Linked DNA regions of Homo sapiens. The protein of the gene in region 2 purifies or fractionates together with the protein of the main gene of each other region. This does not show direct contact. Each region holds a gene or a part of one and is shown on either strand. Other genes may lie near its edges.

Region 1 (3,652 bases), on a different chromosome or scaffold from region 2:
TTATTATTTATCTATTTGTTTTTTAGGTTTCATTTAGTGTAACCCAGCAAGTACTTTTAGAAATTTTTTTTTTTTTTCTTGGAGACATGGTCTCGCTTTGTCAGCCAGGCTGGAGTGCAGTGGCACAATCATGGCTCACTGAAGCCACAAACCACTGGGCTCAAGCAATCCTCCTGCCTCAGCCTCCTGAGTAGCTGGGACCACAGGCATGCATCACCACACCTGACTAACTCTGCCTCACATTTTTTATGAGAATAACTCTAAGTACCCACACTGAGCACTGGATGTTTTTCAGCAGCTGATCATTCATACCCTAGAGCTGTCTTCCTCATCACCCACCTTGTGTACACCTCTGCCCATGAGACTGCCTGCCCGCCTACAAGGTGGCACGAGCATCCCCCTTCCCACCTGCCTCATGCTTGTGGGCAGCAGGGAGCAGGCTTCTGCACTGTGTGGCTGCAGCGGTGTGAAGGCCAGCAGAGGCGTGAACCGTGCTCGGTCTTTGGAGGCACCAAAAATACTTCCCTGGTACATGGGAAGAGATGCACAATTTTTATTCACTTAAACCTGATTTTACTCATGTAGGAAGCTAATACCTGTGAGATGAAAGACAATGTTTTACAGCTGTCTGCAGAGGGAGTGGGGAGAGTCTGCTCTGCAGACATGACTGTAGACAGATGTGTGAAATCATAAAGACCTTCCTAAAAGCCACTGGAACATCTACATAGAATCCACAATATAGGCAGGGCACGGTGGCTCACGCCTGTAATCCCAGCACTTTGGGAGGCTGAGGTGGGTGGATCACTTGAGGTCAGGAGTTCAAGACCAGACTGGCCAACATGGTGAAACCCCGTCTCTACTAAAAATATGAAAATTACCCAGACATAGTGGTGCATGCCTGTAATCCCAGATACTTGGAAGGCAGGAGAATCGCTTGAACCCGGGAGGCGGAGGTTGCAGTGAGCAGAGATTGCACCACTGCACTCCAGTCTGGGCTACAGAGCAAGACTCCATCTCAAAAAAAAAAAAAACCCACAATATAAATAGGAAAAAAAATGCACATGACTAAATTTAGGGAAAAAAAGAACATTCCATACGTCTATCCAATAGACAAGAGGAAAATAGCAACTGGATTAAGGCTAAAAGTTTGGTAATAAGTTATTATAGAATATTATATCCTACTGCATAACTTAACCACTTTTCTTTTTTAAAAAATAGTTTTAACAAACCCTCCTTATAATTTTGACAGCTGAGTGCCTTTAAGCCCCTTTTTTCTTTCTTTCTTTTTTTTTCTTCTGGCTACTTAGTCTGTTTAGTCTGTGACAAGAAGGTCAGGATCATCCCTGCTGTCCACAAAGGAGATGATTTATGATACTCTGTCCCCATCTTCACAAGCCACTGCCCAGTGGGAAAGCAGCTGGATGTCAATGTTCAGCTGGTGGTGGCTGGGAGCATGTTTTTCCCATGTCAAGGATTCTGTTTGATGTTTTGCTTGACTCACGCATTCAACAGACACTGCTCTGTGCTGGGCACTGCAGGGCAGCAGGTTACATGGGGGCTCTGGAGCAGGGCTGGGAAGACAGCTAAAAACACTAGACCCTTGAGCTGCTGACCTCATCTCTGGGCCTAGGCCAACCCAGAGAAGCTCCAACAGGCTGCTCCACAGAAGGGACAAGGACGGGGTTTCTATCACTATAGCTCAGGGATGCTACTGAATCTTTTCCAAGTAGCTACACTTGTATCTCACTCAAAATCATCATCTGAAAACAGGTTTAGGCGCCCCACAAAGCCAGGGCATGGCAGGAGACAGCTATGTGGCCAAGGCCAACAGCACACTCCAAAGACCCAATCTATAAAAACCCGGCCTTACCATGCTGCCTTTTTTTTTTTTTTTCCTTTTCTTTTTTTTTTTTTTAAGATGGAGTCTCACTGAGATGCCCAGGCTGGAGTGCAATGGTGCAATCTCAGCTCACTGCAACCTCCACTTCCCAGGTTCAAGCGATTCTCCTGTCTCAACCTTCCAAGTAGCTGGGACTACAGGCATGCGCCACCATGGCCCAGCTAATTTGTTTTCCTATTTTTAGTAGAGACGGGGTTTCATCATATTGGCCAAGCTGGTCTCGAACTCCTGATCTCAAGCTATCCACCCACCTCGGCCTCTGAAAGTGCTGGGATTACAGGTGTGAGCCTCTGTGCCCAGCCCTGGTTTGCTTTTTGTCATGTTACGAGTTAAATGCTGGGACTTCAGGGATGACCATGGTCAGGTCCCTCATTCACAGGTGAGGAGTTCGAGGCCCTAAGTGGTGAGATTTGCCAAAGCTGCTAGGGCCAGTGACAGAAGCAATTTTATTTATTTATTTTTTATTTTTTGAGACAGAGTTTTGCTCTTGTTCCCCAGGCTGGAGTGCAGTGGCGTGATCTCAGCTCACTGTAACCTCCACCTCCCAGGTTCAAGCGATTCTCCTGCCTCAGCCTCCTGAGTAGCTGGGATTACAGGCACGCACTACCATGCCCAGCTAATTTTTTGTATTTTTAGTAGAGATGGGGGTTTCACCATGTTGGCCAGGCTGGTCTCGAACTCCTGACCTCAGGTGATCCACCCGCCTCGGCCTCCCAAAGTGCAGGGATTACAGGTGTAAACCACCGCGCCCAGCCTATTTATTTTTTTGTTTTGAGGCAGGGTCTCACTCTGTTGCCCAGGCTGCAGTGCAGTGGGGTTTTTCATAGCGGCTGCATCAATTTACATTCTCACCAACAGTCTGCAAGGGTTCCTTTTAATCTACATTTTTTTTTTTTTTTTTTGAGACAAGGTCTTGCTCTGTCACCCAGGCTAGACTGCAGTGGCAGCATCACAACTCGACCTCCAGGACTCAAGCGAGCCTCTCACCTCAGCCTTCCAAGTAGCTGGGAGCATAAGCGTGCACCAGCATGCCCAGCTGATTTTTTAATTTTTTTGTAGAGATGGGGATTCACCATGTTGCCCAGGCTGGTCTCAAACTCCTGGGCTCAAGCAATCCTCTGACCTTGGGCTCCTGAAGTGCTAGTATTACAGACATGAGCCACTGCACCCCACCAGAAGGAAGTTTAAACCTTATCATTCTTTGATTCAGTCTACACCTGTCTTCCAGGTCAAGGAGCAAACCTTTGGATTTCATGGATGAGTGAAATAAAATAATAAAACTGGGGAGCCTGTATCAGGTTTTTAAAAAAATGTTATTAAGTCTATTTTTAATATCATTTCATGAAAGACTAAAATCAAGGAAAGAGAAAAGCTCAGAATAAAAGTCTTTCCTAAAGGAGGATGAGAGGCAACTTCAAATTAAATATATTGTTTAAGGGATATATTTAAATACTTAGAAAGCAGAAAAAAATCACAATGTCCTATTTTACAATATGTATACAATTTTCTCTCATCACAAATTTATCAACTTTTCTATGATCTAAAATACAATTAAATCCCCAAAATTTACTTTCTTTTTAATCTTAGTCATTGGCAAAAAAAACTCACTTCACATAAATATGTTGAAAAACAACTGCATTTGATGTCAATTTTTGAGGCACACTGAGCAGAGAAGAGAACAGCTGCTTTCACCGTGTCCACACATTCACCCTCAGAGCTAGGGAAGATGGGGGTGACACACAGACTGGGGCT
Region 2 (3,652 bases):
ACATGGTGAAACCCGGTCTCTACTAAAAATACAAAAATTAGGCCGGGCACGGTGGGTCACGCCTGTAATCCCAGCACTTTGGGAGGCCAAGGCCGGGCGGATCACAGGTTCAGGAGATCGAGACCATCCTGGCTAACACAGTGAAACCCCATCTCTACTAAAAAAAAAAAAAAAAAAAAAAAAAAAATTAGCCGGGCGTGGTGGCGGGTGCCTGTAGTCCCAGCTACTCGGGAGACTGAGGCAGGAGAATGGCATGAACCTGGGAGGCGGAGCTTGCAGTGAGCCGAGATCATGCCACTCCACTCCAGCCTGGGCAATAGAGCTAGACGCCGTCTCAAAAAAATAATAATAATAAAATAAACATTAGCCAGGTGCGGTGGCAGGCGTCTGTAATCCCAGCTACTTGGGAGGCAGAGGTTGCAGTGAGCCAAGATTGGGCCGCTGCACTCCAGCCTGGGCGACAGAGTGAGACTCCATCTCAAAAAAAAAAAAGCATGGGTACAGTAGGAGCAGGATTAAATAAATACATGCAGCTGGGCGCAGTGGCTCATGGCTGTAATCCCAGTACTTTGGGAGGCTGAGGCGGGTGGAGGTTGAGGTCGGGAGTTCGAGACAAGCCTGACCAACATAAAGAAACCCTATCTCTACTAAAAATACAAAATTAGCCAGGCATGGTGGCGCATCCCTGTAATCCCAGCTAACTCGGGAGGCTGAGGCAAGAGAATGGCTTGAATCTGGGAGGCAGAGCTTGTGGTGAGCCAAGACTGCGCCATTGCACTCCAGCCCAGGCAACAAGAGTGAAACTCCATCTCAAAAAAAATAAAGGCCAGGTGTGGTGACTCATGCCTGTAATCCCAGCACTTTCGGAGGCTGAGGCAGCTGGATCACATGGTCAGGAGTTTGAGACCAGCCTGGCCAACATGGTGAAACCCCATCTCTACTAAAAATACAAAAATTAGCCAAGCATGGTGGCACATTCCTGTAATCCCAGCTACTCAGGAGGCTAAGGCAGGAGAATCACTTGAACCCGGGAGGCGGAGGTTGCAGTGAGCCGAGATCATGCCATTGCACTCCAGCCTGGGCAACAGAGTGAGACTCTGTCTCAAAAAAATAAATAAATAAATAAATAAGTAAATAAATACATGCATATACACATATGAACCTACGAACATGGGATGAGGCCAGGCGTGGTGGCTCACACCTGTCATCCCAGCACTTTGGTGGGAGGATTAGTTAAGCCCAGTAGTTCCAGACCAGCCTGGACAACATAGACCCCATCTCTACAAAAAATTTAAAAATTAGCTGGGTGTGCTAGTGCACGCCTGTAGTCCCAGTTGCTATTTGGGAGCTGAGACAGGAGGATCACTTGAGCCTGGGAGTTCAAGGCTACAGTGAGCTATGATTGCACCGCTGCACTCCAGCCTGGGCAACAGAGCGAGACTGTACTTCAAAATATAAAAACCGACAAAACAAACAGATCTAAACATAGAAAAGGTACAGGAAGCCAGGTGCAATGGCTCACACCTGTAAACCTAGCACTTTGGGAGTCTGAGGCGAGCAGATTGCTTGAGTCCAGGATTTCAAGACCAGCCTGGGCAACATAGTGAGACCCCATTCCTACAAAAAGTACAAAAATTAGCCAGGTGTCTTGCCGTAGTCCCAGCTTTATGTAGTCCCAGCTACTCGGGAGGCCAAGGTTGAAGGATAGCTTGAAGCTGGGAGGTTGAGCCTGCAGTAAGCTGAGGTCGTGCCACTGTACTCCAGCCTGGGCAACAGACCGAGACCCTGTCTAAAAAAAAGAAGAAAAAGTACAGGAAAAATACGGTATATATGGTATTATAATCTTATGGGACCACTGTAGTATATGCAGTCCATTGTTGGCTGAAATGTCATTATTCTCTTTTTTTTTTGAGACGGAGTCTCACTCTCACCCAGGCTGGAGTGCAGTGGTGTGATCTTGGCTCACTGCAGCCTCCACCTCCCGGGTTCAAGCGATTCTCCTGCCTCAGCCTCCTAAGTAGCTGAGATTACAGGCTAGTGCCATCACGCCTGGCTAATTTTTGTATTTTTAGTAGAGATGGGGTAGTGCCATGTTGGCCAGGCTAGTCTTGAACTCCTGACCTCAAGTGATCTGCCCGCCTTGGCCTCCCAAAGGGCTGGCATTACTGGCATGAGCCACTGCACCCGGCCTACGGTATTATAATCTTATGGGACCTCTGTAGTATATGTGATGTATTGCTGGCTGGAATGCTGTTATTCTCTGCAGGACTGCATAATGAACATTCAGGCCTATATTCACAGGTTGTCCAAGGCAGGTCTGGCCTGCAGGCCATAGCTTGAGACCCTCCTGCTAGTCTAAGGTCTCTGATTCCTGTGAGGTTTAATTTTCCTTATCCCCGTTTTGCAGATAGGGAAAACCAAGGCAGAATCCTTTGCTCCCAGGCCTTCGAGGTTTATAAGAAGTAGAACTGGGTTATAAACTGGACAGCATGGCCAGGTGTGGTGGCTCACGCCTATAATCACAGCACTTTTGGAGGCCAGTTCGGATGAATCACTGGAGATCAGGAGTTCGAGACCAGCCTGGCCAACATGGTGAAACCCCGTCTCTACTAAAAATACAAAAATTAGCTGGGCATGGTGGCGGGCGCCTGTAATCTCAGTTACTCGGGAGGCTGAGGCAGGATAATCACTTGAACCCGGGAGGCAGAGGTTGCAGTGAGCCGAGATGACACCACTGCACTCCAACCTGGGCGACAGAGCGAGACTCCATCTCTAAATAAATAAATAAATAAACTGGACAGTGTGATTCTTGGGACTGTCTGCATGGGACGAGCCCAGCTGTGTGTTCTGGTCTTCACAGAGACCCTTCTCCTTTTCCTTGCAGCCCGCATCGCCACATCCCTGGATGGCTTTGACGTCGCGTCCGTGCAGCAGCAGCGGCAGGAACAGAGCTACTTCGTACGTCTGGGCTCCCTGTCGGAGAGGCTGCGGCAGCACGCCTATGAGCACTCGCTGGGCAAGCTTCGAGCCACCAAGCAGAGGGCACAGGAGGCTCTGCTGCAGCTGTCGCAGGTCCTAAGCCTGGTGAGGTTCCAGGGGGTCGGGGCCCTGAGCCAGCAGCCTTCACCCCGCAGCAGACACCCACCCAGAGCTCAGTGGCTTATTGCTCACCCCTCTGCAGGCTGGCAGGGCCATTCCCGCTTGCTCCTGGCACTGTATCTGGTTGTACACTCATTTGCTCAGGATGCTGCCACAAACCACACTGTCTGGGGCCGGGCACAGTGGCTCACACCTCTTTGTGTGAGTCCCTCAAGTGCTTTGGGAGCCCAAGGCAGGAGGATCGCATGAGTCCAGGGGTTTGAGACCCACCTGGGCAATATAGCAAGACCCCATCTCTACAAAAAATAATTTAAAACAATTAGCTGGCTGTGGTGGTGCGTGCCTGTAATCTCAGCTACTTGGGAGGCTGAGGTGGGACGATTGCTTGAGCCCAGGAGTTGGAGGCTGCAGTGAGCTATGATTGTGCCACTGCACTGCAGCCTAGTCAACAGAGCAAGACCCCATCTCAAAAAAAAAAAAAAAATCGTGGCCAGGTGCGGTGGCTCATGCCTGTAATCCCAGCACTTTGGGAGGCTGAGGCGGGTGGATCACG

The links. Proteins that work in one complex are often made in the same cells at the same time.
Region 1: the proteins of PLIN3 (region 2) and IMPA2 fractionate together in Homo sapiens (co-fractionation; one large-scale study listed by BioGRID). This does not show direct contact.

The regions. Positions count from the first base shown.
Region 1 is NC_000018.10:12,001,914-12,005,565, reverse strand, and holds part of IMPA2 (inositol monophosphatase 2), read right to left. Parts: intron 1-3,652. UniProt on the Homo sapiens protein: Phosphatase that can use myo-inositol monophosphates, myo-inositol 1,4-diphosphate, scyllo-inositol-1,4-diphosphate, glucose-1-phosphate, beta-glycerophosphate and 2'-AMP as substrates in vitro.
Region 2 is NC_000019.10:4,847,123-4,850,774, reverse strand, and holds part of PLIN3 (perilipin-3), read left to right. Parts: intron 1-2,884; coding exon 2,885-3,084; intron 3,085-3,652. UniProt on the Homo sapiens protein: Structural component of lipid droplets, which is required for the formation and maintenance of lipid storage droplets. Required for the transport of mannose 6-phosphate receptors (MPR) from endosomes to the trans-Golgi network.